Linked DNA regions of Homo sapiens. The protein of the gene in region 2 purifies or fractionates together with the protein of the main gene of each other region. This does not show direct contact. Each region holds a gene or a part of one and is shown on either strand. Other genes may lie near its edges. The genes, in order: CHAF1B, INSL3, RNF123 and IREB2.

Region 1 (7,019 bases), on a different chromosome or scaffold from region 2:
CCTGGTAGGCTTCGAGCAGAAGCCGAGGTCCCATCAAGGGTCCAGACTTTCCGTGCCTCCTTTGTTTTCATCGAGTCTGGGCCGCTTTAGCTCTGGGGGACTGCCCTGAGCGTCTCCAGGCGTCTCTGCAACATTAACAAACATAAGGTTGGCAAGTAAATGAAGAATTCTGGAAGTCAAGGGCTGACATTTACAGAATACAGAGCCAAGACACGGAACTGAGCTGCCTGGCAAGATCCTATACTGATATAATGGAAGTTCTATAGAGTGGCTCTCAACCAGGGGCGATTTTGCCTCTCAAGGGACAGTGGGCAATGTCTAGTGGCATTTTTGAATGTCATGGGCAAGCTGGGCGCGGTGGCTCACGCCTGTAATCGCAGCACTTTGGGAGGCTGAGGCGGGTGGATCATTTGAGGCCAGGAGTTCAAGACCAGCCTGGCCAACGTGGTGAAACCCCCGACTCTACTAAAAATACAAAAATTACCCGGGTGTGATGGCGCACGCCTGTAGTCCCGGCTACTCGGGAGGCCGAGGCAGGAGAATTGCTTGAACGTGGGAGGTGGAGGCTGCAGTGAGCCGAAATCGTGCCACTGCATTCCAGCCTGGGCGACAGAGCAAGACTGCATCTCAAAAAAAAGAAAAAAAAAAAAAGAATGTCATGGGCAAGAAGTAGCAGCCGGGGATGCTGTTAAACATCGCATAATACACAGGACAGTCCTCCACAACAAAGAATTGCCTGGCCCACAAGGTCAGCAGTCATCAGGTGGAGAAACCTGAGCTAGACAATCTCCTGCTGAACCCACTCCCTGGCTCACCAGGATGCTCTCACTGGCCAGGTGCCCCCTGCTGAGGCGTAAACAGGCAGCCGGCGGGTTTAAACAATGGTTCCAATAAGATGCATCCCTGCTGTCTCAGAACTGACTTAAAATTAGGCGGCATTAATTTCCAAAAGAACAAAAGAAAAGATACTCTACCTTTCATTATATTAAACCAGTAACAATATTACTTACCTGACTGAATTTCTTCTGTAGAAGGGGTGGAAATCACACTGGTTGGTACAGAACTTGGTGGAGTGTCCGTCTTTAAGGGTGTTAAGTTTATTCTCCTTGATTTAAAAAAAAAAAAGTAGAGGGGTGATGGCTCATTAGTATCACAGGAATTGTTTATGTATGATACCAACCTTCAAAACTACCAAAGGAAATACTTAAATTTTCAGCTGAACTTCTGGTTCAAGGCATTAAATAGTAAGATGTGCCCACTTGTTTAATAACTGAGGATTACATTCATGTATTAAGTTAAACCATCACATTTATAACAGTCAACTTAAACCATAACCAGTCATCGAAAAGTTTCAAAACCTGTGTTCTGTTCATTACCGACGGTCTTGTGAACACTCTGCTGGCTGCTGTAAAAGGCAGTCAGATATGGTTTCTATATATAGAAAGCGTCGAAACACAGGTAATACTTTTTTAAAATCCAGAGCGTTGGGCCGGGCAAGATGGTTCGCACCTGTAATCCCAGCACTTTGGCGGGCTGAGGCGGGCAGATCACTTGAGGTCAGGAGTTTTCGACCAGCTTGACCAACATGGCAAAACCTCGTCTCTACTAAAAATGCAAAAAGTCAGCCAGGCATGGTGGCGCATGCCTGTAATCCCAGCTACCTGAGAGGCTGAGGTAGGAGAATCACTTGAACCCAGAAGGCGGAGGTTGCAGTGAGCAGAGAGCATGCCATCGCACTCCAGCCCGGGCAACAGAGCAAGACCCTGTCTCAAATGAATAAATAAATAAATAAAAACCCAGAGTCTTAATTTTCAACAACTATTCTTGTTTGCAAAAGATTACATCTTCAAGAAGCTTGGTAAATAATTCAGAAGAAATCAAGAGGGGAAAAATAATTTAATACCAAAAATAGTTCAAGGAATACCTTCCGTCACATAAAAACAAACAGAAAAATTGTAAAATACATTGCTAATCTGCAGAAAGAAATGAGAGATTTTAAGAGGGCGTTAAAGCCAGCAACCCATACACATATTATGAACTTGCCAAAGAAGACCTATTGGCGCAGGAGAGGCTGAGAGGCACAGGGCGCTTCTGTCCAGCTCACCATCCCCACCACTCCCCTCTGCATCCCCCTTCCCAGCTCTCCTCGTGACTCAGTTTATGGGAAGGTTGGGAGGCAGAGGGCTTGGTGGAGAAGGAACTATACAGGATCAGAGGGGTAACTGGACATCAGCTGCAGGGGAAGAATGGAAACAGGAGGCTGTGCTGCCTGACGGCAGAAGGATGTGCTAAGTGGCTCTGTATCCAGTAGAAGTGGCAGACACAGGCGTGCGTGCCAGCCACACTGATGTAAGCAGGGAAGAAACGACTCTGCACCTCCTGGGGATTATTTGTTATCAGATCAGGACCTCCGTTTCTCACCGACCAGGCTGCTGGAGACATCAAACGCAGTCTCAGGAAGACACTCCTGGAATTGCCTACATCCTGGGCAGAACAGCATAAATAAAAAATGGGACCTGCTTCCTGTCCTTGGGGGCTCACAACCAGCAGGGGAACTGGAGCATCAAAGCACCTGCTATGGAATCTGATGTGTGGTGACAAGGGAAAGGCTGAAGGGCCACAAAGACTGCAAACAGAGAGGGTACATTGAAATGGGTCTTTCAGGAGACTCCTGGCATCACCAAGAGGAAGAGGTGTCCAGGGCTTCCCCAGAGAAGGGAAGGACAGAGGCCTCAAAGGGCAGAGAGTGCTCTGGGAAGATGACATTCAGGACTAGGCCGGAGATGAAGGCCACAGACTCAGGAGAGAGAGTGGCCACAGTCCTGGATGACAGGCTGCAGCCAAATCACAGTCTGTGTGTGTGCATAGGAGCCTGGGCTTTATCTGACAGGCAGAAACTGGAGGAACAAACAGAGGCCTATATGCAAGAAATGACACTCTCGGATTTGAAGTTAAGAATCTCTCTGGCAACCTACTGGCATGAAGCATTCACCGCCTGAAATTTCACCTGCAGCAGGGTGGGAGCGTTCTGTCTGCATTTTGTGTTTCATTTTGCAATGACATCTTGTTCCAACAAGTTCTTACCGGGGTGTTGTCTTGCTCCAGGCTTGCAGTGTGTTCAGAGTGACCCTCCGGGATGGGTGGGCTTTTGTGTTTTGACTACTGGGCTGCAGGGTCTTCTCCTCCGAAGGCCCCGGCAAGGGGCTTTTGACAGCAGGAGTGATGGAGGGAGGGTCCCTGATGACTGTTGGGGCTGGGGCCTGTCTGGCCTGAGGGGGAGTCGTGCCGGGGCTGCTGGGGTCTTGGGTTCTGCTGGCAGGGGTTCCCTCTACCGGTCTGGGTCCTGGCGAAGACCCTCGATGTGTCTGACTCTTGGTTTTCTTTGCTGTATCAGGAGTTCTCATGTTCAAAACTGGCTTCTCTTTCAAAGGAATTCCAAGTTCATCTTTCTCAAATGTCACAAATGAGCAGTAACCGTCCGTGGAAGAAATGGCCAGGAAGGCACCATCGCTGGACCTTCGTCCCCAAAACAGGGAAAAGTTACAGACCTTACCAACACTCTCACATCTACTTAGAAGAGGGAAGTTCGAGCAAAATCACAAGCTTGTTTGAAGGCAAAAACCAGGGAAAAGATACAACTGGAAAAGAGTGTGTGATAGCGACTCACTCATGCAGTTTCATCGCGATTTGCTAAGTCGCTGCAACCTATCTGTGCTACTAGCAATTTTCACTTGAATAGGCCGGGTGCGGTGGCTCACGCCTGTAATCCCAGCACTTTGGGAGGCCAAGGCAGGTGTATCATTTGAGGTCAGGAGTTCAAGACCAGCCTGGCCAACATGGTGAAACCCTGTCTCTACTACAAATACAAAAAAATTAGCCAGCCATGGTGGTGGGCGCCTGTAATCCCAGCTATTCGGGAGGCTGAGGCAGGAGAATTGCTTGAACCCAGGAGGCGGAGGTTGTAGTGAGCCACGATCGTTCCACTGCACTCCAGCCTGGATGACAGTGAGACTCTGTTTCAAAAAAAAAACCTCACACTGGGCCAAGCAGGCCACGGGGGCTGAATTGGGGACCAAAAGGTGGCAGAAGGACAGTGCTGAGTGACATCCTCTACACAGGCCCAGCTTGGGGCACTTCCCTGTCCTGGGCAGCAGGGGCATGCAGGGAAGGGCTTCCTCCCAGAGGGCCTCAGAAGTCCCCAAATGGCCAGGGAGTCTACAAGGCCTCCCCTCAGTTTATCAAAGTCCAGTTAACCCCACAAGGCAATCTGAATGCCATCAAAACCCACCAGTGTGAAAATAAGAAGCAAGTATTGTGGCAAACTAGAAACGGCTTTCCTTTTAATGTTGATTCCTTTAAAAAACAAAATTGGGGCCGGGCGTGGTGGCTCACGCCTGTAATCCCAGCACTTTGGGAGGCTGGGGCAGGAGGATCGTTGAGCCCAGGAGTTTGATACCAGCCTGGCCAACAGGGCGAAACCCCATCTCTACTAAAACCACAAGAATTAGCCAGGCGTAGTGGTGCGCACCTGTAATCCCAGCTACTTGGGAAGCTGAGGCATGAAAATCACTTGAACCTGGGAGGTGGAGGTTGCAGTGAAACGAGATCACACCACTGCACTCCAGCCCGGGTGACAGAGTGATACTTGGTCTCAAAAAAATAAATAAGAAACAAAATTGGTGAATATGTCCCCCAAAGCCATCTTTAGTAATGAAATGCTCCCTAACCCCGGGGTGTCTTCCAGGATACAGCCACGGTCTCCTTCACTCACTCTCCCTCATTAGCAGCCACTCACCATGAAATGTCACTGAGGGTGTGGTAATGTATATTAGACACGTAACCAAAAGGGAAGGACTGCTGGGTGTCATACAGAAGCACGGAATCCTCCGAGGCCACAGCAAACACCAGGCGGTAGGGCAGACTCATCAGCTCCACACCTGGGGGTTGGGGACAGAGACAAAGTAAAACCACAGAAACAAGGCTTCTGACCAGGTGCAATGGCTCACGCCTAGAATCCCAGCACTTTGGGAGGCCGAGCCGGGTGGATCACTTGAGCTCAGGAGTTTGAGACCTGCCTAAGCAACATGGCAAAACCCCGTCTCTATCAAAAATACAAAAATTAGCCAGGCGTGGGGGTGTGTGCCTGTAGTACCAACTACTCAGGAGGCTGAGACAGGAGAATCGCTTGAACCCAGGAGGCGGAGGTTGCAGTGAGCTCAGATTGCACCACTGTACTCCAGCCTTAGTGGCAGAGGAAGACTCTGTCACAAAAAAAAAAAAAAAGAATATTTATAAGAATAAAAATACATCCAGCATCCACTAAAGTAAAAGTCAGTGTCTAGTATCTAATCAAAAAGTACCAGGCAAACAAAAACAGGAAGATATGACCCACAATGAGGAGAAAAAAATCAAAACCAACCTGTATACAAGGACATTAAAAGAGCTATTATAACTGCACTCTATATGCTTAAGAAGCAAGAGGAAACTGAGGCGGGCAGATCACCTGAGGTCAGGAGTTCGAAACCAGACTGGCCAACATGGCAAAACCCTGCCTCTACTAAAAATAAAAAAAGTAGCTGGGTGTGGTGGCGCACACCTGTAATCCTGGCTACTTGGGAGGCTGAGGTGGGAGATTCACTTGAACCTGGGAGACGAAGGCTGCAACGAGCCGAGATTATACCACTGCACCCCAGCCTGGGCAACAGAGCAAGAAAAAAAAAAAAAAGAAAGCAGCAAGAGGAAAAATGGAGCATGGAGAGGCACAGAATATATAAGGAAAACCCAAAGTGAATCTCTAGAGATGAGAACCACAACAAAGAAAAACACACTGGATGGGACCAAGGGCAGAGCATGCAGAAGAAAGGGTTAGCAAACTCAAAACACAGCTATAGAGACTTCCAAAATCAAACACTGGAAGAAGAAAAAAACAAAAAAAGTAAGTAGTATCAAAGGCCAGGAACTAATTTCAAAGGACCTAATATAATACATGTGTAATGGGAGTATTTGAATAAGAGAAGGGAATAACAGAAATAACATTTGAAGGAAAAATGGCTGAAACTTCCCAAATGTAATAAAAACTATAAACGGATAGATCTACGAAGTTCAATGAACCCCAAGCACAAGAAAACAAAGAAAATGGCTGGGCATGATGGCTCACGCCTATAATCCCAGTACTTTGGGAGGCCAAGGTGGGTGGATCACCTGAGGTCAGGAGTTCGAGACCAGCCTGGCCAACATGGCAAAATCCCATCTCTACTAAAAATACAAAAATTAGCTGGGTGTGGTGGCATGCGCCTGTAATCCCAGCTACTCTGGAGGATAGGAGGGAGAATCCCTTGAACCTGGGAGGCAGGGTTTGCAGTGAGCCAAGATTGCACCACTGCACTCCAGCCTGGGCGACAGAGCAAGACCCCATCTCAAAAAAAAAAAAAAGAAAAAGAAAATTGATAATGAGAGACATAGACAAACAAAAGGAGTACGTCCATTCCTTTTAAAGTGCCTTAAGCAAGAAAATATATCCTGAAGAAAGAAAAAAAAAAAAAAACTGACATGTATTTTGATAACCCCAGTCTTTGCTCCAGCTTTTAAAAATAACTAAACCAGGCCGGGCACAGGGGCTCACACCTGTAATCCCAGCATTTTGGGAGGCCGAGGCAGGTGGATCACTTGAGTCCAGGAGTTCAAGACCAGCCTTGGCAACATGGTGAAACGCTGTCGCTACCAAAAATACAAAAATTAACCAGGCTGATAACCTGGTCTCAAAATAAATAAATAAATAGATTTAAATGTAAAAATAAAATATTTTTAAAATAACTGAACTGAACCAAACCCAGATACCCACCTTTCCCCATAAGACAGAATCCAAATCTCCACCCCACTCTGGTGACCTGTTTCGGAGAGAAAACATAACACACCCCTGAGGCTCTGAGGATACCTGTTTCCACCACTGGCCTCAGTTCAAAGTAGACCGGACAGCAGCGAACAGCAAGAGTGGCTTTTCCAGGACATGGAAGATGAGC
Region 2 (7,469 bases):
AGGTGGGAGGATCGCTTGAGCCTGGGAAGGCAAGGCTGCAGTGACCCGAGATCGTGCCACTGCACTCCAGCCTGAGTGACAGAGCAAGACTGTCTCAAAAGAAAAAAAAAAGGACTTATGAAAATTTAGAGGGTTGTTTACCCTCTACCCAATCTGCAGTTTACAATTGACACCAGTGGTTCTCAAACCAGGGTGATTTTGTTTCCAGGGGATACTTGTCTGGGGACAGTTTTAGATGTCACAACTTGGATGGGGTGTGAGGCTATTCATGGCATTAGGGGGCAGAAGACAGAGATGTTATCTAACACCCTACAATATACAGGACAGCCCCACTACCATATACATCCCCAAATGTCAGCATCAGCTTTTTTTTTTTGAGATGGAGTCTCGCTCTGTTGCCAAGCTGGAGTGCAGTGGCGTGATCTTGGCTCACTGCAACCTCCACCTCCCGGGTTCAAGTGATTCTCCTGCCTCAGCCTCCTGAGTAGCTGAGACTACAGGTGTGCGCCACAACGCCCGGCTAATTTTTGTATTTTTAGTAGAGACGAGGTTTCGCCACGTTGGCCAGGCTGGTCTCACCAGCCTGAGAGTAGCTAGTCACAGCTACTCAGGAGGCTGAGGTGGGCAGATTGCTTGAGTCTGGGAGGCAGAGGTTGCAATGAGCCGAGATCACGCCACTGCACTCCAGCCTGGGTGATAGAGTGAGACCCTGTCTCAAAATATATATATATAATAATAATAATATTAATATTTTTCCCTTTTTTGAGACAAGGGTCTCTGTCTCAGGCTGAGTCTCATATTGCCCAGGTTGGTCTCAAACTCCTGGCCTCAAGTGATCTTCCCTCCTAGCCTCCTGAGTAGCAGGGATTACAGGCATGAGCCACCACATCCAGCAAGGTAAGTATTTTAATGCAATACTTTTAAAATAAAATTTAAAATATTTGTAAAAAGGCCAGGCACAGCGGCTCACGCTTGTAATCCCAACACTTTGGGAGGCTGAGGCGGGCAGATCACCTGAGGTCAGGAGTTCAAGACCAGCCTGGCCCGGGCACAGTGGCTCATGCCTGTAATCCCAGCCCTTTGGGAGGCCGAGGCAGGTGGATCACGAGATCAGGAGATTGAGACCATCCTTGCTAACATGGTGAAACCCCATCTCTACTAAAAATACAAAAAATTTAGCTGGGCTTGGTGGCAGGCGCCTGCAGTCCCAGCTACTCAGGAGGCTGAGGCAGGAGAATGGCGTGAAGCCGGGAGACGGAGCTTGCAGTGAGCCGAGATCACACCACTGCACTCCAGCCTGGGGGACAGAGCGAGACTCAATGTCAAAACAAAACAAAACAAAACAAAACAAGACCAGACTGGCCAACATGGTGAAACCTGTTGTTTCACCTGTTCACCTGTCTCTACTAAAAATACAAAAAAAAAAAAAAATCAGCTGTGCATGGTAGTGGGTGACCTGGGGAGTGGCCTGTAATCCCAGCTACTTGGAAGGCTGAGGCAGGAGAATTGCTTGAACTCAGGAGGCGGAGGTTGCAGTGAGCTGAGATCGTGCCACTGCACTTCAGCCCGGGTGACAGAGCGAGACTCCATCTCAAACAAACAAACAAAATACAAAAATTAGCCAGGTGTGGTGGTGCGTGCCCGCAGTCCCAGCTACTCTGGAGGCTGAGGCAGGAAAATTGCTGGAACCCGGGAGGCAGAGGTTGCAGTGAGACGAGATCACGTCACAGCACTCTGGTTTGGGTGACAGAGCGAGGCTATGTCTCAAAATAAATAAATAAAAATAAAATAATAAAATAAAGTAACATAATTGTGAAAAGCAATACTTTTCAAAAGCAATACTTTTAAATACTTTTAAAGCTGGACACAGTGACTCACATCGCTAATCCCAACACTTTGGAAGGTCAAGGTGGGAGGATTACTTGAGCTCAGGAGTTTGAGACCAGCCTGGGAAACAGAGTGAGACTCCCTCTCTACGAAAAAGAAAAAAAAATTAGCTGGGTGTGGTGGCAGCACCTGTATCCCAGCCACTCCAGAGGCTGAGGCAGGAGGATGGTTTGAGCCCAGGAGGTTGAGCCTGCAGTGAGCCGAGATCTCACCACTGCACTCCAGCCTGGGCGTCAGAGTGAGACCCTGTCTCAAAAAACAAACAAACAAAGCAAAATTAAGGCAAAAATTCATGAAGATCAAAATATTGAAATTTTAAGACAGGATCTCACCATGTACTTGCAAGAGCCTACCTCTCCTGCCTCACTCTGTTTCTGGCCCCTCAGGGGGACTCATGCTCTGAGGACTTTCTTTTTTTTTTTTTTTTGAGACGGAGTTTCACTCTGTCGCCCAGGCTGGAGTGCAATGGCATGATATCGGCCCACTGCAACCTCTGCCTTCCGGGTTCAAGCGATTCTCCTGCCTTGGCCTCCCAAGTAGCTGGGATTACAGATGTGCATCATTATCCCCGGCTAATTTTTTTAAAAATTATTTTTAGTAGAGATGGGGTTTCACCATTTTGGCCAGGCTGGTCTCGAACTCCTGACCTCTGGGGATCCACCCGCCTCAGCCTCCCAAAGTGCTGGGATTGCAGGCGTGAGCCACCACGCCTGGCTAACGGCTCTGGGGACTTTCACACGCGCGTTCACACACACTCCAGTGCGGACCCACGATCTGTGCACGCAGCCGGCAGGTGAGCCCTGGGCACATGCATGCAAACCTGCCCACCTCCCTGCACGTGTGCATCTGCGCCTACGTGCACCTGCCCCACCTCGGCTTCCCAGAGCGCTGTCCCTGCCCGTCCCCACTCACGGTCGCCTCCGGTCGCAGGCCTCCTGGCTTCGGTGGACCAGCGGGGGCCCCCGCACACGCGCACTAGCGCGCGTACGAAGTGGTGGCCGCACAACTTCTCACGCATCTCTGGGGTGGGCGCGGGGCCCAACGCGAACACCAGGGCAGGGCCCAGCAGCACCAGCGCCCAGGCGGGCAGACGGGGGTCCATGGTGGTGGGTGGCGCCGGGGCCAAGCGGGGACCCCCTTTATAGGCGCCTGGGCCGTCCCAGCTGGGGGCCTTGGAGAAGGGACAGAACATTCTTCAGGACCGCCCAGGAAAAAGGTCAAGGGTGGGGTTAGTGCCAGAGCCTTTCTCCCAGGGCCAGGGCCTTGGATGTACTTCTCCCAGAGGGAGCACTGGGCAACGAGTCTTTCTTTTTTATTTTTTTCTTCTTTTTTTTTGAGATGGAGTCTCACTCTGTCACCCAGGTTGGAGTGCAGTGACTTGATCTCGGCTCACTGCAACTTCTGACACCCGGGTTCAAGCGATTCTCCTGCCTCAGCCTCCTGAGTAGCTGGGATTACAGGTGCGCACCACTATGCCTGGCTAATTTTTTTTTTTTTATTTTTTATTTTTAGTAGAGACTGGGGTTCGCCATGTTGGCCAGGCTGGTCTCCAACTCCTGACCTCAAGCGATCCATCTGCCTCGGCCTCCCAAAATGCTGGGATTACAGGCATGAGCTGTGCCTGGACTATTATTATTTTTATTATTATTATTGAGACAAAGTCTTGCTCTGTCTTCCAGGCTGGAGTGCAGTGATGCGATCTCGGCTCACTGCAACCTCCACCTCCTGGGTTCAAGTGATTCTCCCACCTCAGCCTCCCAAGTAGCTGGGATTACAGGTGTAAGCCACCACGCCCAGCCACCTATTTTTATTTTTTATTTTTGAGATGAGTTCTTGCTCTGTTACCCTGGCTGGAGTGCAGTGGCACGATATGGGCTCACTGCCACCTCCCTATCCCTGACTCAAGCAATTCTCCCACCTCAGCCTCCTGAGTAGCTGGGACTACAGGCCCACGCCACCACACCCGGCTAATTTTTTGTATTTTTTTTGTAGAGATGGGGTTTTGCCATGTTGCCCAGGCTGGTCTCAAACTCCTGGACTCAAGTCATCTTCCCGCCTCAGCCTCCCAAAGTCCTGGGATCACAGGCGAGAGCGACCACACCAGGGTATTTATTCATTTTTGACATAGGATCTCTCTGGGTTGGCCTGTAATGGCAGGATCATAGCTCACTGTAACCTCATTCCCCTGGGCTCAAGCGATCCTTCAGCCTCTGCCTCCTGAGTAGCTGGGACTACAGGCCTGCAATACAATGCCCAGCTAATTTTTAATTTTTTAATTTTTATTTTTATCTTTTTAGACAGAGTCTTACTCTGTCACCCAGGCTGGAGTACAGTGGTGCGATCTCGACTCACTGCAACCTTTGCTTCCTGGGTTCAAGCGATTCTCCTGCCTCAGCCTCCTGAGTAGCTGGGATTACAGGTGCCCACCACCAAGCCTGGCTAATTTTTGTATTTTTTAGCAGAGACGGGGTTTCACCATGTTGGCCAGGCTGATCTCAAACTCCTGACCTCAAGTGATCCACCCGCCTCGGCCTCCCAAAGTGCTGGGATTACAGGCGTGCACCAACGCGCCCGGCCATTTTTAATTTTTTAATTGTAGAGGCAGGGGTCTTGCTATGTTGCCCAGGCTCATCTAGAACTCAAGTGGTTCTCCCTACTCGGCCTTCCAAAATGCTGGGATTACAGGTGTGAGGCACCACACACGGCCAAGTCTTCGCTATTGTCTTAACCAGTTTAAAGAGATGAAATAGATCAACTGAAAAGTAATAATCCTGCCTTTTCTGGGGGGCAGGGGGGAAGACAGCGGGCATCTTCCAAGACCAGAAATGTTCAGAATTTTGTTGTTTCTATTACTGTACAAATGAGAAAACTGAGGCACACAGGCCAGGTGCAGTGGCTCATGCCTGTAATGCAAGCACTTTGGGAAGATGGGGCAGGTGGATCACTTGAGGTCAAGAGTTCGAGACCAGCCTGCCCAATATGGTGAAACTCTGTCTCTACTAAAAATACAAAAATTAGCCAGATGTGGTGGTGCATGCCTATAATCCCAGCTACTCGGGAGGCTGAGGCAGGAGAATCACTTGAACCCAGGAGGTGGAGATTGCAGTGAGCCGAGATGGTGCCGCTGCACACCAGCCTGGGGACAGAGACTCCGTCCCCTCACCAGACAAAAAGAAAGAAAAGAAAAGAAAAAAAGAAAACTGAGGCACAGAGAAAGGACCCCAAACTTGCCCAAGGTCACAGGAGGCTGAGCAGAGCCCAGGTCTTCTCAAGGCGCCTGACACGCAGGGCTGGGGGTGTCCCATCCGAAGCTCTGTCTCCCCAACACGGTTGTCCCCTCTGGGTGAGCAGGGGCTGGTGGACCCAGAATAGAGCAGGATTTATTTGTTCAGTGGATGCTTGGCCCCCGCTTCATGCCTAGGGGGTCTTATAGCTTTGTTTTTCCAAGGAGGGAATCTGAGGTTGAGAGAGGGAAGGATGCTTGACCCTAGGCAGGAGAGAACCTGGGCTGGAACTCGAGTCTTGCTTGACCCCAGAGCAGCTCCCTCCCTATTTCTACCAAATTAGGGGGCCCTCTGGGGCTAAGAGAGCAGGGACAGGGATCTCTCTCTCTCTCTCTCTCTGAGTCTCTCTCGGCCTTCATCTCTCAGTTTCCTTCTGTATGTCTGTCTCTGTCCGCATTTTTCTTTTTTTTGAAACGGAGTCGCTCTGTCGCCCAGGCTGGAGTGCAATGGCATGATCTCAGCTCACTGCAACCTCCACATCCCAGTTTCAAGCAATTCTTCTGTCTCAGCCTCCTGAGTAGCTGGGATTACAGGCATGTGCCAGAACACCAGGCTAATTTTTGTATTTTTAATAGAGACGGTTTCGCCATGTTGGCCAGGCTGATCTCATACTCCTGACCTCAAGTGATCCTCCTGCCTTGGCCTCTTAAAGTGCTGGGATTACAGACGTGAGCCACTGAGCCTGGCCACTCTCCACATCTTTCTAGCAGTTATGAGGTGCACATGACGGGGGCCGGTCGGTGGGGAGGTGGTCCGGCCCCAGTGATGCTGGTCCCCTCCCCACAGCCTCGCTCCCCCAACCTGGCCTTGTCCTCTGACCACCGGGAGAGCATCCTGTTCCTTCCCCACCCACAGAGAGCCTGTAATCAGCTCCCCCAGGCTGCAGCCAAGGCCAGCAGCTGGGGCTGGGAGTGAGGGGGCTCTGTCCTTGAGGGCCCCAGCCAAGCCCCACCCAGTGGTCCTCCTCCACCAGCCTGCCCTGGGGCCCCCACAGTGGCTCCCTGAGAGGTCTCTGGCCCACAGCTCTAACCGCATCCCTCCCAGCTCACACACCCTCTGAGGCTCCCCATCGCCCCAAGTCCAGCACAAAATCTTTTCCACTGAATTCCTTTATTCAGTCAACAAACATTTCCAGAGCCCCCTCTGTACTGAGGCCTCAGCCCAGCCCCCAAGGAACCCTGAGGTCAGGGGAGACAGCTGGACACAGACACTTCCCCAGCCCCAGGGCCAGAGTGGGGCTGGAGGGAAGGACAGGGCTACAGTAGTAGTGGGGGTATATGAGGGAAGGCTGCAAGGATGTGGTAGCTGGAGTTTTGAGAGATGGATAAGAGTTTTCCAAGGAGGCAAAAGTGGCAGAAAAGCTTTGCAGGTGAGGAGGAGCAGCAGAAGCTTAACCTGCATGAGAATCCCTCTCACCAGTCAGAAAGTTGACCCTGCACAGCCAAGGGGTAAGCTCTGACCATTTTGCAGGGGACAGAACTGAGACCCAGAGAGGGAAAGGAACTTGCCCACTGTCACACTGCATGGAAGGGGCAAAACTGTAGGCTCCAATACTTGGGCTCTTAACCTCCTTACTCTGAGCCTTCTCACGCTTGGCATGCTGTTCCCTCTGCCAGGAATGCCTTTCCTTCCCTTGATTGCGTGAAAAGTTCCTGCCAGGTTTGGTGTCATCCCTTTGTGCCCCTTGTAGGGTGAGGACAGAAAGGGTCCCATTGGACAGGTGGGAAAACTGAAGCCCTAGGACACTCAGATACCATTAGGGTGGACTGGGACCCCAGCCTTTCCTGCCCCCTTTCAGGATCCCAAAGAGATACACGGGCTCCCCTAAAAGGCAGAGTCCCAGCCACAGCAACTGCTCTTGTCCTTGGCTTCCTCCAGAGAAACAGAGATCGGGGAGCAGAAGTCAGATCATACATTTAAAGCTACATGAGGGCCGGGCGCAGTGGCTCATGCCTGTAATCCCAGCACTTTGGGAGGCCGAGACGGGCAGATCACGAGGTCAGGAGATGGAAACCATCCTGGCTAACAAGGTGAAACCCCGTCTCTACTAAAAATACAAAAAATTAGCCGGGTGTGGTGGCGGGCGCCTGTAGTCCCAGCTACTTGGGAGGCTGAGGCGAGAGAATGGTGTGAACCCAGGAGGCGGAGCTTGCAGTGAGCCTAGATTGCGCCACTGTACTCCAGCCTGGGCGACAGAGCGAGACTCCGTCTCAAAAAAAAAAAAAAAAAAAAAGCTACATGAATGTCCCCATTGGAAATAAGACAGGAAACTCAAAACTAGGTGCTGTAGTCCCAGCT
Region 3 (7,122 bases), on a different chromosome or scaffold from region 2:
ATGAGACCTATCTGGTAGCAGAACAGAGTGACTATAGTAAATAATAATTGTACATTTAAAAATAACTAAAAGAGTATAACTAGATTGTTTATAAGACAAAAGATAAATGCTTGAGGGGATGGATACCCCATTTACCATGATGTGATTATTACGCATTGCATGCCTGTATCAAAGTATCTCATGTACCCTATAAATATATATACCTACTACATACCCACAAAAATTAAAAATTAAAAATGTAACACAAAGAAAGAAACAGAAAAGAATCACATTTGAATAGTCATGTTAAAATAACAAGATAGCAGGTGCTTTTCCTTCTTTTTTTAGAGACAGGGTCTTGCTCTGTCACCCAGGCTACAGTGCAGTGGCATGCAGAGGCCAACTCACTGCAGCCTCAACCTCCTAGGCTCAAGTGATCCTCCCACATCAGCCTCCCTAACAGCTGGGACTACAGGTGCACACCACCATGCCCAGGTAATTTCTGTATTTTATTGTAGAGATGGGGTCTTGCCATGTTGCTCAGGCTGGTCTTGAACTCCTGGACTCAAGCAATCTACCCACCTTGGCCTCCCAAAGTGCTGGGATTACAGGTGTGAACCACTGTGCCTGGCCCTCTAAGTTTCTGCTAAAATGTACTTGTAACTTTTATACTGACTACACTTAAAAGTATTAAACTTGTAAAGAAAAGGCCCTGGAGGAGTTTGTTCTTTACAAGGTCAGTCAGAAGCTACAAGGGGCCAGGCTGGGGCCAAGGTGAGGGCAGGTACATGCAGGGGCAGATGCTGGGTATGGAGTAGGTGCCAGGTGCTAGCTGGGCATGAATGTGCACCCGCTCCCTGACCTCTGCTCCCTGACTCTCAGAAGGAACTAGCACTGCCTGGAGACAGGAAGAAGCAGAGTACGGAAGGCAGACTCTCTGGCCAGAGATCTCGCAGCCAGGAGCACAGTGAGAACAGAGCCTAAGCCTATCTGTCCAGAGCCCAGGCTCCCTTTCCCTACAACTGCAGCCTCCTTATTCTGGTCTGGCCCAGCAGAGTGAGGAGGGGCCACCCACCCAGCCATACCTGCTGGTGGCTGCTGGGGGTGCATGTTCAGAAGAGGAAAAGATGCGGTTCAGGTAGTCATTCAGCAGCTTCTCCTGCACAATGCCTGAGCCACAAGTCAGAAGGGAGAAAAGGGCCACATGATCAGTGCAGCTCCTGGCCCCTGCTGGCCCCAGAGACTTCTGGTCCTAGGCCAGCCACAGGTGCAGCAAGGCCTGAGGCCTTTGTCCCTTCCTTCTCCTCCCAACAAGAGGAGCCTCCTTCCTTCCCTGCCAGCTCTTACCTGTGACCCTGGATTTCTCAGCATCTGAGGTCAGCCTATAGCTCTTGCGGGAGAAAGACATGCCGGCCCCCTTGGATGCCATCCTTCATCTCTCATGGGCAGCCAGTGGTCCTGGGGGCTGAGCCAGACACAGAGCCTGTCTACTCAGGGCCAGCCAGGGGCCCCCACACCTGACCTCAGTCCTGCCATGGCAGGAAGGCTTGGGAGCAGGTGAGGCCAGGGGCATGCACACTAACACATAGGGCAGGGGAATGCAGGGGCTCCCAGCTTCCTACACAGGGAGGGTAGCCAGGGTCTAGGCCCATGTAACAGGGACCACTTCTTGTTCTCCAGTGTCCCTGTGCCCAGCACAGGGCTGGGCAGAGAGCAGGTACTAGATATATTTTTGCCGAACCATAACAAAATGTCTCAGCTCTGTGGAAATCAGACCAAAATGTCCAAAGTGAGGTGTCCTAGGGGCAGAGCCCCTGTATCCATCTCAGTTGTAAGCCATACTGAGTCCAGCTCACAACCAGAAGCGACAATCCTACACATTCCCCCAAGTGCAGACCACCACTGGTCTGGTCATCTCTAGCCATAAGTCCCACTTACTCCCCACAAGGCTGGAGCCTCTTTCCTCAGCCCTGGGTTCCTCCCTTCTTTTATCCATGGTCCTGATAGTTTCACCATTCCCACTCACACATGTGGCCTCCCACCTCATCCAAGCACCACCCTTGCCCAGCCCTCATGGCAAACTCCATTGGTCCTCCTAGTGCATCTATCCCTCACATCATGTTGCTGCTGCAGCTGCTCCAGAACCTGCACTGAGTCCCTGGTGCTGGCCTCACTGATGTGTAGCGGTGCTGTCCAACACAGCAGCCGTCATCCACATGAGGTTACTTAAATTTAAAGTTTTAAAAATTAACAATTCGATTTCTCAGTTGCCTTAGCCACATTTCAAGAGTTCAATGACCACATGTGGCTAATGGTTACTCTGTTGGACAGCACAAAGGTAGAACGTTCCCACCATCATATAAAGTTCTATTAGACAGCGCAGGTCTAGAGTTTCGCTCTGCAGCACTGCCTTAGCCAGCACTCCCTACTCTGCAGTTCAGTCTCTTATCTCACCCCAAACAGACCCTCTACTCCCGCCACAAACCCTTGTGGGTCTGCACCACGCCTGCTCCTCGGGAAGGTGATTTTCCCGACCTCGGGCCCTCGGTGGGCGTCCATGATCGGTGCCCCTTCACTACCAGAGTAGTTGAAGATCTGATTAAACTCAGTCATTCATTTGATGAGCAGACCTTCCAGACACCCGGAGTGGGCTCCGGGAGTCAGTTGCTGAGGACCCAGGTGAGAGGCGGACCTTGTCCCCGCCCGGGGACTCCCTGTCACGGCTATCCCGTCCAACCCCGCCGGGGTATCCGGACTCAGAACTGAACCTACTCCGTCTGGGAGCCCAAGGACGGCGAGGGCGGCGCATGGCTCCCCCAAGTCGCCCCCGCCTGGCCCCAAGCTCCACAGGACCTGCCAGACCAGCTTCCGCTCGGAGTTTCGCACCCAGATCCCTGCGCTGCAGGTGCCCTCGCACTGGACTAGCCCGGACCGCGAAGGGAATAGCCGGAACCCGCCAGGCTCAGAGCCCTGCCGCCCCTCACTCACCCGGAGCCTCGGCCGCAGCGACCCGGCTCACAACATCCGCCCAACCTCTTGGCTACGGCGTCCGTTCAGGGCCAAATCACGCGCACGCTTGCGCGCTGAGCCTCCAGCCGCGCACGCGCACTGGCCCGCGCCCAGCCTCCGCTAGGGGACCCCCTCCATGGCTTCCCACCGGGTTGTTCCAGGCCTCAGCTTCGCCGAAAGGCCTCACCACCTCCGACCTCCGCCTGCTCTGGGGATGCTCCCAGCCCTGCTGCGGCAGAACGCGACATGCTAACCGGAATCCCTAGGCCGCCTGTCTCCTACCCATACTTAGAGGCCCCGCTCAGACGGTCCTTAAAACGTCTGAAAGGCCGTTCCTGCCAGAGTCCCTGCTACCTGTTACCTCCACCCCTATTTAGTCCTAGTGGACAGCCTCGCTCACCTTCCCTGGGATGACACTTCTGGCGGCTGAGATGAGCGAGCCTCTCTGGGCTCTGCCGCCGGGTGTGGGCTGACCTGCCTACAGCTGGGGCCTGATAAGGCAGCAGCAAAAGGGTGGAGGGGAGGCAGTGTTGAAGCTGGGGCAAGTAATTTTCCCCAATTTACAGGGAAAAACCGAAATTCAGAAAAGTTTAATGTCACCCAGGGGCTGGAGCCCAGACCTCTGGCAGCTCTCACTTTCACAATGCCCTTGGGCTGACTAGGCTGCAGAGGGGTTTCACCCCAACCCCAGGGCACCTCAAGTGTCCCCACCAAACCTTCCTAACACCTGTCCACTAAGCTGTACTAGGCCCTTGCAACTGACCTATGGGACCTGAGGCCTGGCCCCTCATGGCTCCTGTCACCAGGTCTCAGGTCAGGGTCCAGCAGGCCCTGAGCTGACGTGTGGAGCCAGAGCCACCCAATCCCGTAGGGACAGGTTTCACAACTTCCCGGATGGGGCTGTGGTGGGTCACAGTGCAGCCTCCAGCCAGAAGGATGGGGTGGCTCCCACTCCTGCTGCTTCTGACTCAATGCTTAGGGGTCCCTGGTAAGTGCCCCCAACCCTGATCCCCATCTGCCTTCAGGAGGGGGTTGGCCCCATTCTCCTATTCTAGGATGAGAAAAAAGTCGGGGAGCCAGAGGCTCAGTGGGCATGGGGCAGTGACCTTGCCCTCTTGAGCACAGCTGGGAAGCCCTAGGAACACATAGACATTGCCCACTTAGGCCTCTATTAGCACGTCTGCTCTAGCACTGAAGCAGTGTCAGGACCACACAGATGCACGCACACAGCAGGCAGTGACCCCTCCTGAGCCTGATCTACCCCTCTAACCTAGCATATGCCTTTGTGCAGGTGAGAGCCCAGATTTGGAGTCTGAATGCCTAGCCAGGGCCCCTGGCTGGGTAATGTGATGGCTCTGAGCCTTAGCATTCTCATTTGAGAGATGAGGTGGGGCAAGCTTCATCACCCACTGCTCTCACAGAGCGTATGTGTTAGATCTGAGCCCGGTGCCTGGGCCACTAAACAGAGGCACCGGTGATAACTACCAAGTCTGGGCCTGCTTCCCAGGGGAAATTTTTTTCACAAGTATCTGTGCAGGGGGCTAGACTGGCCCTTGAAAGTGCATACAGGGTCCATCCCAGAAGCCTTGTAGCTTTGATCCCCTGAATGAACAAAGTGTGGACATGCCAATACACATTACTGACATGTATGCCCACCTGACCTGCACCCACTCATGCCTACTCTGCAGGGCAGCGCTCGCCATTGAATGACTTCCAAGTGCTCCGGGGCACAGAGCTACAGCACCTGCTACATGCGGTGGTGCCCGGGCCTTGGCAGGAGGATGTGGCAGATGCTGAAGAGTGTGCTGGTCGCTGTGGGCCCTTAATGGACTGCCGGTGAGTGGCCACTGGGCCTAGATAAGACTGGGGGCAGGGAAGCCTGGGCTGTGGCGTTACCCTGTGCCTTCTTCTCTCCAGGGCCTTCCACTACAACGTGAGCAGCCATGGTTGCCAACTGCTGCCATGGACTCAACACTCGCCCCACACGAGGCTGCGGCGTTCTGGGCGCTGTGACCTCTTCCAGAAGAAAGGCAAGTGGGGGTGGAGAGGGGCAGGGTGGGAGACAGGGGACCTCAGCCCAAGTTGATCTTCTGTCTCTTGCTCCCAGACTACGTACGGACCTGCATCATGAACAATGGGGTTGGGTACCGGGGCACCATGGCCACGACCGTGGGTGGCCTGCCCTGCCAGGCTTGGAGCCACAAGTTCCCAAATGATCACAAGTGAGACAAACACCTTCCCTCCGTCCCGGCCTGGGGCCTTCCCCCAGCACACACTATAGTGATGCTCTGGGCCCTCAGGTACACGCCCACTCTCCGGAATGGCCTGGAAGAGAACTTCTGCCGTAACCCTGATGGCGACCCCGGAGGTCCTTGGTGCTACACAACAGACCCTGCTGTGCGCTTCCAGAGCTGCGGCATCAAATCCTGCCGGGAGGGTAAGCGGCGCCGGGTCAAGCTGGGAGAGTGGAGGGACAAGCCCACGTCCATCCACGAACCCACTGGCTCTTTGTCTCCAGCCGCGTGTGTCTGGTGCAATGGCGAGGAATACCGCGGCGCGGTAGACCGCACGGAGTCAGGGCGCGAGTGCCAGCGCTGGGATCTTCAGCACCCGCACCAGCACCCCTTCGAGCCGGGCAAGTACGCGTAGGCGGTATCGGCGTCCTGGGGGCCGGGCTAGGGAAGGTCCAGGACTCCAGGGGCAGGGCTCCGTGTAGGGCAATTGGGCGGGGCCAGATAAGCCAGAGTCCCAGGGTCTTGTTCACGCCCCATTACCGCCCCCAGGTTCCTCGACCAAGGTCTGGACGACAACTATTGCCGGAATCCTGACGGCTCCGAGCGGCCATGGTGCTACACTACGGATCCGCAGATCGAGCGAGAGTTCTGTGACCTCCCCCGCTGCGGTAGGCGGCGGGGACCAGGCCTGGGAGGGTACCTGGGAACCTTGGGGAGGGGCGTGGCTTGGCCGGGGAGGTAAGAGGGGCTGGGCGTGACCTGAGAGCATACCCCGTGGAGTACCGTACACCTGGGAAAGGCGGGTTTGGTCCCAGCCCCAGAGGGATCTCAGCTCTCGCTCGGGGCCCGACCTATCTCGGTCCATCTAAGGGTCCGAGGCACAGCCCCGCCAAGAGGCCACAACTGTCAGCTGCTTCCGCGGGAAGGGTGAGGGCTACCGGGGCACAGCCAATACCACCACTGCGGGCGTACCTTGCCAGCGTTGGGACGCGCAAATCCCGCATCAGCACCGATTTACGCCAGAAAAATACGCGTGCAAGTGAGGTGGGGGGGGGGGGCGGGCGTTGGGACGTGCTGCTGCGGGTGAGACGGGAGGAAGGTAGTCACGGGCTCAAGGCTGGAGGCTGGCGGGCTAGGGCTGAGTGGAGCGCCTGCTTAGAGACCTTCGGGAGAACTTCTGCCGGAACCCCGACGGCTCAGAGGCGCCCTGGTGCTTCACACTGCGGCCCGGCATGCGCGCGGCCTTTTGCTACCAGATCCGGCGTTGTACAGACGACGTGCGGCCCCAGGGTGAGGCCCAAGCTTGGGGGCTACAGAGCCGGGCTGGAAGCCTGGAACCGGAGGGCCGGGGCGAGGTCTCGGCCTGATGGCTGCCCGCACCCGCCACAGACTGCTACCACGGCGCAGGGGAGCAGTACCGCGGCACGGTCAGCAAGACCCGCAAGGGTGTCCAGTGCCAGCGCTGGTCCGCTGAGACGCCGCACAAGCCGCAGTGAGTCCCTGGTGCTCCCGGCCCCGCCAGGGCCCTAACCCTGGGGCGGCATGCTTTGGTGTCTGGGACCAGAGCCTGGAAATGGTTGAGACTACCCTGCCACGATTTTGCTCCCGCTTCCGCCTAGGTTCACGTTTACCTCCGAACCGCATGCACAACTGGAGGAGAACTTCTGCCGGAACCCAGATGGGGATAGCCATGGGCCCTGGTGCTACACGATGGACCCAAGGACCCCATTCGACTACTGTGCCCTGCGACGCTGCGGTGAGCACTAGTGACGCTTCCCCCATGACCCTGCCTCAGCCCCCACCCAAAGGCTGGCTCCCTTAACCCCAGTGAACTTTGTCTTTCAGCTGATGACCAGCCGCCATCAATCCTGGACCCCCCAGGTTAGGAGTTGGGCCAGTT
Region 4 (7,976 bases), on a different chromosome or scaffold from region 2:
ATGACAGCCTAATTCTAAAATGGGGATTCTTTAAGATACTCCAAAATAGCTGTATTTCACAATACACAAAAAATATTGCACATAGCAGTCAAGAATATTTAAATTCCTCAAAATCTACAGAAAAATCACAAGAACAATCGTCTTAATTAAATAATGCAAGAAAAAACAAGATTAAAGCTCCTTCCAAAACTGACTGCAACAGATGTGGCATTCAATTTATCTTTTCATGTCATTGTCATGGAAAAGTTCACAAAGAATAATGAGTCTTCTAAAGAGGTCTCTCTATTGGCCCAATTGAGAAAGTTACTCAACTGTTAGTAAAGTCAAAACTTCCATTCAATGCCCTATAGGTCGCCCACATTCACTCTTCTGAGACCACAGAGAAAGGTTTGACCCTGATAAGGTCAATGAGAATGTCTGCCAAAACTGCAGGTGTGTAGGTTGGGGCAAACCATGCCCAATACTTCAGAAAAATTCAAATCAATGGGTCCTGTTGGTGATTCCTATTCAACAGATGGCAAAAAGAATAGATGTGGGCACTGTTCATTTGACAAAGTAAAACAGGCCAGGCATAGTGGCTCAGGCCTGCAATCCCAATACTTTGTGAGGCTGAGGCAGATGCATCACTTAAGGTCAGGAGTCTGAGACTAGTCTGGGCAACACAGCAAGACCCCAACTCTACAAAAAATATAAAAATATGTTTTTATATAAATGTGTTGGCATACACCTGTAGGCCTTGTTACTTGGGAGGCAGAGGCAGGACTGCTTTAGCCCAGGAGTTCAAGGCTGTATGAGCTATGATCACAACACTGTGCTCTAGCCTGGGCAACAGAGCAAGACTCTGTCTCAAAAAAAAAAAGAAAAGAAAAGAGAAAATAAAATATACATTTAATTGGTGTAGAATTATCATCAGTCAGTCAGGTTCTTCTAAAAATCACATTAGGCCAGGCGCAGTAGCTTACATGTGTAATCCCAAAACTTGGGGAGGCAGAGGTGGGAGGATTATTTGGGCCCAGGGGTTCAAAACTAGCCTGGGTAACATAGCAAGACCCCTGTCTTCACAAAAACAAGAAAAAAAAAAGTTTGAAAACTGCATTATTGGTTTCTTTGAGGGGAAAAACTAGTGCTTAATTAACTTAGATTTTTAAATGAGAAGTTAAGGTGTGGGCCTACATCTTCCCTGAACAGAAGTTGTCCCAGGAGGAGTTTTTAAAATGGTATAGGTATGTGTAGGTGTACCTGTTACAATACGGTGGAAATACATTTAAAATTTCTTCAGCTCAGCTTGACAAATGCATTTTCATTATTAGAGACTAAACAAACCCAAGAAAATGTAAAGCAACATTACCATACTTGGTGCCAAGTTTAGATACATCGAAGAACTTCTTATGTGAACTGTCATTTAATGTTTCAATAAGGTACTCAAAGGCGTATCCTGAAAAAAAAATTGTATTTTCATTAAATGCAGCAACAAAATATTTTATTCAGCTGAAAATACCTGGAAACTAGCTTTATCCAATAGAATTTTCTGCAATGGTAAAAATATTCTATGTTTGAGCTGTCCAGTAAAGTAGCCATTAGCAACGTGTGGCTATTGAGCACCTGAAATGTGGCTATCGTGCCTGAGGAACTGAATTTTTAATTTATTTAATTTTGATTAATTTAAAGTCACACAGGGCTAGTATCCACCACACTGGAAAGCATAGTTCTAAACCATAATTTGTCAAGTAAAAACTAGTAAGATAATTCACTCCTGAAATGTGATAAGAATACCTGGAAAGGGACAATAAGAATGATTTAAATAATCCACGGGGACGTTTTGGAAAGACATGTCTTGAAAACTGCAGAGACAGGAATTTGTGAATTCCACAATTAACATTAGAGGGACTGATTAAAAAAAAAAACTAAAAGACGGATTTTTACAGAGCATTCAATAAACCAAAACAAAAAAACTTCTCAGTTAAGTCCTTACCAGGGCTTAGTACTGAAAATAAAAGTAACAGAATCTCTAGGAAATTAGCATATTCTACCCGAAAGAGACAAGTCTTCTGGTTTTGCACGAACTGAAGCTGAACTACTAAGTCAAAGATCCAGAGGTCTCATTTAAACGTGCCTCAGCTCCCAACATTCTAGGGGGCAGTGGCGGGGAGGCAGCCCTGAGGTTGAAAAGAACCTTCAGATCTTTTGTGCAGACTCATAGCGGTGGGTGGCCAGGACCCTCAACATTGTTAAGGCTTTCATCCAAAAGGAGAAAACATAAGCACAGCCCATTTTCAGAATGAATAGTATTTTTTTCTCTTTTTTTTTTTTTGTAGAGGGAGGTGGACGGGGGAGGAGACAGCGGTGCAATAAATGGTCGGAGAACTGACTGACCAATGTTCAACCTTGACTGCCCCTCATTCGGCTTCCAGAGGCACAGAGAGACTGAGGGGCCTTAGGCTGGACCGTGGAATCAACATCTAGCTGCGTGAGACCCGAACACGGAGACGCAGGCCCCCGCCTTCATCGCTCGCCAATGGGGGGCGGGCAGGAGAAGACGGTGGGCCTCTCCCTGCCCCTGGTGTTGCTGACGGGGGCCAGGAAGCCGCTGGCAGCAGGCAGCGGCCACCGGAGAGAGAGGGGTGCGGGTCAAGGCCAGCGGTGGGGTGGCCCGCCCTGCGGGTGTCGCGCAGGAGGGTGGGGATCGGGAGCCCCAGCTTCCGCGGCCTAGGCTCAAAGGGCGGCCCAGCAGGCAGGCCCCGAGGGGAGCACAACCCGAGCCCCGAGGGCCTGGGCGCCTGCCGAGCGACTCCAGGCGAGAAAAGCAAGGAATTCGGCGCCTAGGCAGCGCGCGTTTCCAACTGCCAGACCCAGCTCGGAGGCCCGAAACTGACCTGCTTTTGGGGCGTCCATCGCCGGAGACCATATTATCCCTCCGGGGAGGGGGCCAGCGGGGGAAGAAGGGGGAGGCCGGGCAGGGAAGACGGGGAGGAAGACAGGCGGACTGGCAAGGGAGGAAAGAAGGAAGCAGGCTCGCGCAAATATCGCGAGAGCAGCAGAGCCAGCCCCGGGTCTGCGCTCGCGGGATTTGTCGCCTAACTCCCGCGAGATCGTCGGACAGGAAAACAAAGAAAGGGAAGGGGCGGAGCTAACCAGAAAGCGATTTCTCGCGCCGTCGCCGCTGTTCTCGCGAGCGGGGGCGGAGCGCTGGGGAGGCTCCAGTGGGGGCGTTGGCGTGGCTAGTTTGGCCTTCGCAGCGATCCGTTACTTAGTTGCGGCCTTAAGTTTTCTATTGGGGTCATGAATTCGAGCGGTGTTTGCGTTCCCGCAAGGTGTCTGTTGGAGTCAGGGTCGGAATCGGAACTGCTAGGAGAAAGAGCTCAAGGAGAACCGCTTTCCCCTAACTATAAAGCCTTGCATTAACTTGTCAGACGTGGGCGGCCCACACGCGTGTTTTCAAGTGGGGGCGGCCATACTGATCGGGCGCGTGGGAGGCGCTCAACTGTTGAATGAATGAATTTTTTCTTACCCTCCGGTAGCTTCCGTGATTGCCGACTTCTTCCCAGTGGCAGTTAACACATGCTTAAGCCTCTCCATCCTTCCGCCTCAGCTCCTCCGGTCCCTGTGTTCTCCACCTACCCAGCATTATCTCCTGTCGCAGCAACTTACCAGAAAGAGTCGCTCATACTCGGCTCTCCCCCACCCACTTCTTATCCTCTTCCAGTCTGGCTTCCACTCCCAGAAATGCCTTTAGCCAAGGCCAGCTATAACTCCACTTTCTAATCTCACATATCTCAATCTTGACTGGTTCTCTCCCATTGTTGAAAAATACTCTTCCATCAGCTTCTGTGACTTCAGACTCTACTTTTGTTTCTTCTCCTAAGGGTGCTTGATCTCAGGCTCCTCTGCAGACCTCTTCCTCCGCCCAGCTTTTAAATGTACTGGGCACTTGATGGGCACAGTAGCTCATGCCTGTAATTCCAGCACTTTAGGAGGCCAAAGTGGGAGGATGGCTTGAGCTGAAAAGTTCAAGACCAAACACAGCAACGTAGTGAGACCCTATCTCTACAAAAAAAATTTAAAAATTAGCTGAGTGTGGTGGCATGCACCTGTAGTCTCAGCTACTCAGGAGGCTGAGGTGGGAGGATCACTTGGGCCCAGGAGATTGAGGCTGTGGTGAGCCATGATTGCACCACTGCACTCCAGCCTGAGCAACACAGCAAGACCCTGTCTCAAAAAAAAATATATTGGACATTAAATGTGTCCCAGGGCTCTGGCCTTGTACCTCCTCCCTCTGTCCATTTTCCCTGGCCCATCTCACACTTCCTTTGACTTCAGTTATTAGTTAATATGTTGATGCTTCCCAGTCTGCCTGTGACCTGAGCCTATCTCCTAAACCCGGAGGTGTATATCCTAGTACCCATGGGATGCCTCCACATCCCAAGGCACCTCAAACTAAAAATCTCCAAAACTGAACTCGTCATTTCCCTCCTTAAACCTACTATTCCTTTTGTATTGCCTGTATTAGCGAATGGCGCCACCATCCACCTGGTTGCCCAAGCCAGAAATCAACACATTATACCTGACTCCTTCATCCACTCCCTTTAATCATTGATCCAAGCCCTGTCAACCCAAACTCCAATATATTTCCTTTATTCACCTTGCTATATTTTGTAACATCTCCTTTACAATCCCAGCATGAAATTCATAGGTAATATAATCTACATACACGATAAATAATCTACTTAATGACCTAACTGTAATATAAAGGAGAAAAATAGGAAAGTAATTTATTAGAAAATAATATGTATTATAATACGTAGCTGCACAGGCATGTCTATATTAGATGACAAAATTGAGTAGTCAGATGCTTGTATCTATTTATAACGAATGAGTTTGGTTTTACAGGACATATAATATTCGACTGGGCCAGGCACAGTTGGTAGCTCAAGCTTGTAATCCCAGCACTTTGGGAAGCCAAAGCTGCAGGATCGCTTGATGCTAGGAGTTTGAGACTAGCCTGGGCAACATGGTGAGACCCTGTCTCTACAAAAACTTAAAGAGTTAGCCAGACATAGTGGTGCATGCCTGTAGTACCAGCTACCGTGAGACAGAGGCAGGAGGATCACTTGAGCCCAGAAATTCAAGATTACAGTGAGCTATGATTGTGCCACTGCACTCCAACCTGGGAGACAGAATGAAACCCTGTCTCAAAAAAAGATAAGGCCGGGGCGGTGGCTCACGCCTGTAATCCCAGCACTTCGGGAGGCTGAGGCGGGCGGATCACGAGGTCAGGAGATGGGAGATCATCCTGGCTAACACGGTGAAACCCCGTCTCTACTAAAAGTACAAAAAATTACCCGGGCGTGGTGGCAGGCGCCTGTAGCCCCAGCTACTCGGGAGGCTGAGGCAGGAGAATGGCGTGAACCCAGGAGGCGGAGCTTGCAGTGAGCCGAGATTTCACCACTGAACTCCAGCCTGGGCAACAATGCAAGACTTCGTCTCAAAAAAAAAAAGATAATATTCAGCTGAATATGGTCAACACTTTTTATGTCTGACATTGCAAAATAAGGATTCAATATATACATACATATCATGCATAAATATATATTATGAATGCATATATGGTAAATGCACATATGTATAAAATGTACATATATATCATGAATGGCCTCTAAAGACTAATGAAAATATGTTAGTGACTTAAATATTGGAAGTGTTGTCACTATTGTGATTTTCTGAAATGGTGAATAACTCTTGATAAAGTTCAAAACAAAAAAAAAAAACCTTTGCTTTTTTTATGCAATAGTTGTATTCCTAGAAAATTCCGTATATATTAAAACCATACACAAATTACTTTTGTTTTTACTTGTATATGGGGTTAAACTCTAGGCTCAGATAATTATAAACAAATTTGTTGTTACTGTTTTTATGTTTGTGTGTATGTTTAATGTACTTGAATATCTGACAGTATGGGTCTTGTTTGATTCTTTTTTTTTTTGAGACGGAGTCTTGCTCTGTAGCCCAGGCTGGAGTGCAGTGACATGATCTTGGCTCACTGCAACCTCCGCCCCTCGGGTCCCGGTTCAAGCAATTCTCCTGCCTCAGCCTCCTGAGTAGCTGGGAATACAGGCACGTGCCATCATGCCCAGCTAAGTTTTATATTTTTAGTAGAGACAGGGTTTTACCATGTTGGCCAGGCTGGTCTTGAACTCCTGACCTCGTGATCCGCCCATCTCAGCTTCCCAAAGTGCTGGGATTACAGGCGTGAGCCACCGGGCCTGGCCCTTGTTTGATTCTTTGTTGTGTAATTCTATAGTGTGGAATGCAGGCAATCTAACATTCATTGAATCCCAAAAGTGCCCCATGATGGTGACAAACAAAAACACCCATTTTCTCAGTGTCCCGCTTCCACTGAGAAGCACTAACTTAGAACAATCATGATATGCTCCCGTGTGGCTGGACTCATTACTTTTTTTTTTTTTTTAACAGTTTTATTTACTTTTTGAAAATTTTATTTATTTTAAGACAGAGGTCTGTTTATTTGGCCTGGACCGATCTCAAACTCCTGAGTTCAAGGGATTCTCCCACCTCAGCCTCCCAAGTAGCTGGGACTACAGGCATATGCCATCTCAGTCAGCTTTAACAGTTTTATTGAGATTTAGTTTAAATATCATAAAATTTACCTATTGTTAAACATTCTTATTTTGTGACAATTGTAGATTTACATGTAGTTGTACTAAGTAATAAAGATCCCGTATACTCTTCACCTAGTCTTTCTCCATGTAGCATAGTACAATATAAAAACGAGCAAATTGACATTCATACAATCATTCCACCTTACTCAGATTTAGGCAGTTCTACATGTACTCCTTTGTAGGGTGTGTGTGTGTGTGTGTGTGTGTGCGCGCACATGCACGTGTGTATTTAGTTCACGTGTGTGGCTTTGTGTGGCCATCACTACAGTCAAGATATGGAACATTTCCAAGGATCCTTCCTGTTGCCGTTTTATAACCGCAGCTGTTTTCCTCCTAGGCTGCCATTTCCTCATCCCCTACACCCTATTTTGAATGCTATGCAAATGGAAGCTTATGGTATGTTTTCACTATACATTTTTTTTCAAGTTACATTTCCAGTGAGATTTTAGCACCCTTTTAGATCAGTGTCTCGGGCAATGTCCAGGCTGGTTCACCTCTCCTTTTTTTTTTTTGAGAGAGAGTCTCACTGTGTTGCCCAGGTTGGAGTGCAGTGGGGTGATCTCGACTCACTGCAACCTCCATCTCCTGGGCTCAAGTAATTCTCCCACCTCAGCCCCTGAGTTCCTGGGACCACAGGCGCACGCCACCATGCCCAGCTAATTTTGGTATTTTTTGTAGAGACAGGGTTTTCCTATGTTCCTTAGGCTGGTCTCGACTTCTGTACTCAAGCTGTCTGCCCACCTTGGCCTCCCAAAGTGCTGGGATTACAGGTATGAGCCACTGCACCTGGCCCATCTCTACTTTTTAAATTAAACATTTTATTTCGAAAAACAAAATTCAAGAATACAGAAGAATTGCAAGATAATTATAATAAAACTTCATATATACCTTAATTAGGTTTATTTATTTACTGTTAACATTTTGCCACATTTGCCTTGTCTCTCTCTCCCTCTCTGCTATTTCAGAGATAAGATCCTCATTATTTCTTATTCTTTTTCTTTTTTTGAGACACAGTCTCACTGTGTTGCCTGGTCTGGAGTGCAGTAGGTATTCACAGCAAGATCATAGTGCACTGTAGCCTCCAACTCCTGGATTCAATCAATCCTCCTACCTCAGCCTCCCAAGTAGCTGGGGCTACAGATGTGTGCCACTGCACCTGGCTATTTCTTATTCTCATTTTTTTGGTACCATTTCAGAGTAAATTTTAGAGATTATGACCCTTCAGTCCTGAGTACTTTATCATGTATCTACTAAAAATGATCAAATTCAGGAAATGTAATTGATACAACACAATCAATT

What was found.
Region 1: the proteins of INSL3 (region 2) and CHAF1B purify together in Homo sapiens (affinity purification with mass spectrometry; 3 studies listed by BioGRID and IntAct, with this or other methods). This does not show direct contact.
Region 3: the proteins of INSL3 (region 2) and RNF123 purify together in Homo sapiens (affinity purification with mass spectrometry; 3 studies listed by BioGRID and IntAct, with this or other methods). This does not show direct contact.
Region 4: the proteins of INSL3 (region 2) and IREB2 purify together in Homo sapiens (affinity purification with mass spectrometry; 3 studies listed by BioGRID and IntAct, with this or other methods). This does not show direct contact.

The regions. Positions count from the first base shown.
Region 1 is NC_000021.9:36,409,381-36,416,399, reverse strand, and holds part of CHAF1B (chromatin assembly factor 1 subunit B), read right to left. Parts: coding exon 6,935-7,019; intron 4,938-6,934; coding exon 4,796-4,937; intron 3,517-4,795; coding exon 3,085-3,516; intron 1,106-3,084; coding exon 1,011-1,105; intron 126-1,010; coding exon 34-125; 3' UTR 1-33. UniProt on the Homo sapiens protein: Acts as a component of the histone chaperone complex chromatin assembly factor 1 (CAF-1), which assembles histone octamers onto DNA during replication and repair.
Region 2 is NC_000019.10:17,818,518-17,825,986, forward strand, and holds the start of INSL3 (insulin-like 3 isoform 2 precursor), read right to left. Parts: upstream 3,003-7,469; 5' UTR 2,990-3,002; coding exon 2,800-2,989; intron 1,974-2,799; coding exon of another isoform or gene 1,879-1,973; intron 1-1,878. UniProt on the Homo sapiens protein: Seems to play a role in testicular function. May be a trophic hormone with a role in testicular descent in fetal life. Is a ligand for LGR8 receptor.
Region 3 is NC_000003.12:49,685,452-49,692,573, reverse strand, and holds the start of RNF123 (E3 ubiquitin-protein ligase RNF123), read right to left. Parts: upstream 3,018-7,122; 5' UTR 2,968-3,017; intron 1,445-2,967; 5' UTR 1,409-1,444; coding exon 1,327-1,408; intron 1,150-1,326; coding exon 1,065-1,149; intron 1-1,064. Other genes in the region: MST1 (hepatocyte growth factor-like protein isoform 2 precursor), read left to right, coding at 3,883-3,976, 4,677-4,824, 4,906-5,018, 5,096-5,210, 5,289-5,425, 5,507-5,623, 5,772-5,890, 6,093-6,261 and 4 more. UniProt on the Homo sapiens protein: Catalytic subunit of the KPC complex that acts as E3 ubiquitin-protein ligase. Promotes the ubiquitination and proteasome-mediated degradation of CDKN1B which is the cyclin-dependent kinase inhibitor at the G0-G1 transition of the cell cycle.
Region 4 is NC_000015.10:78,433,254-78,441,229, reverse strand, and holds the start of IREB2 (iron-responsive element-binding protein 2), read right to left. Parts: upstream 3,015-7,976; 5' UTR 2,893-3,014; coding exon 2,874-2,892; intron 2,810-2,873; exon of another isoform or gene 2,374-2,809; intron 1,436-2,373; coding exon 1,349-1,435; intron 1-1,348. UniProt on the Homo sapiens protein: RNA-binding protein that binds to iron-responsive elements (IRES), which are stem-loop structures found in the 5'-UTR of ferritin, and delta aminolevulinic acid synthase mRNAs, and in the 3'-UTR of transferrin receptor mRNA.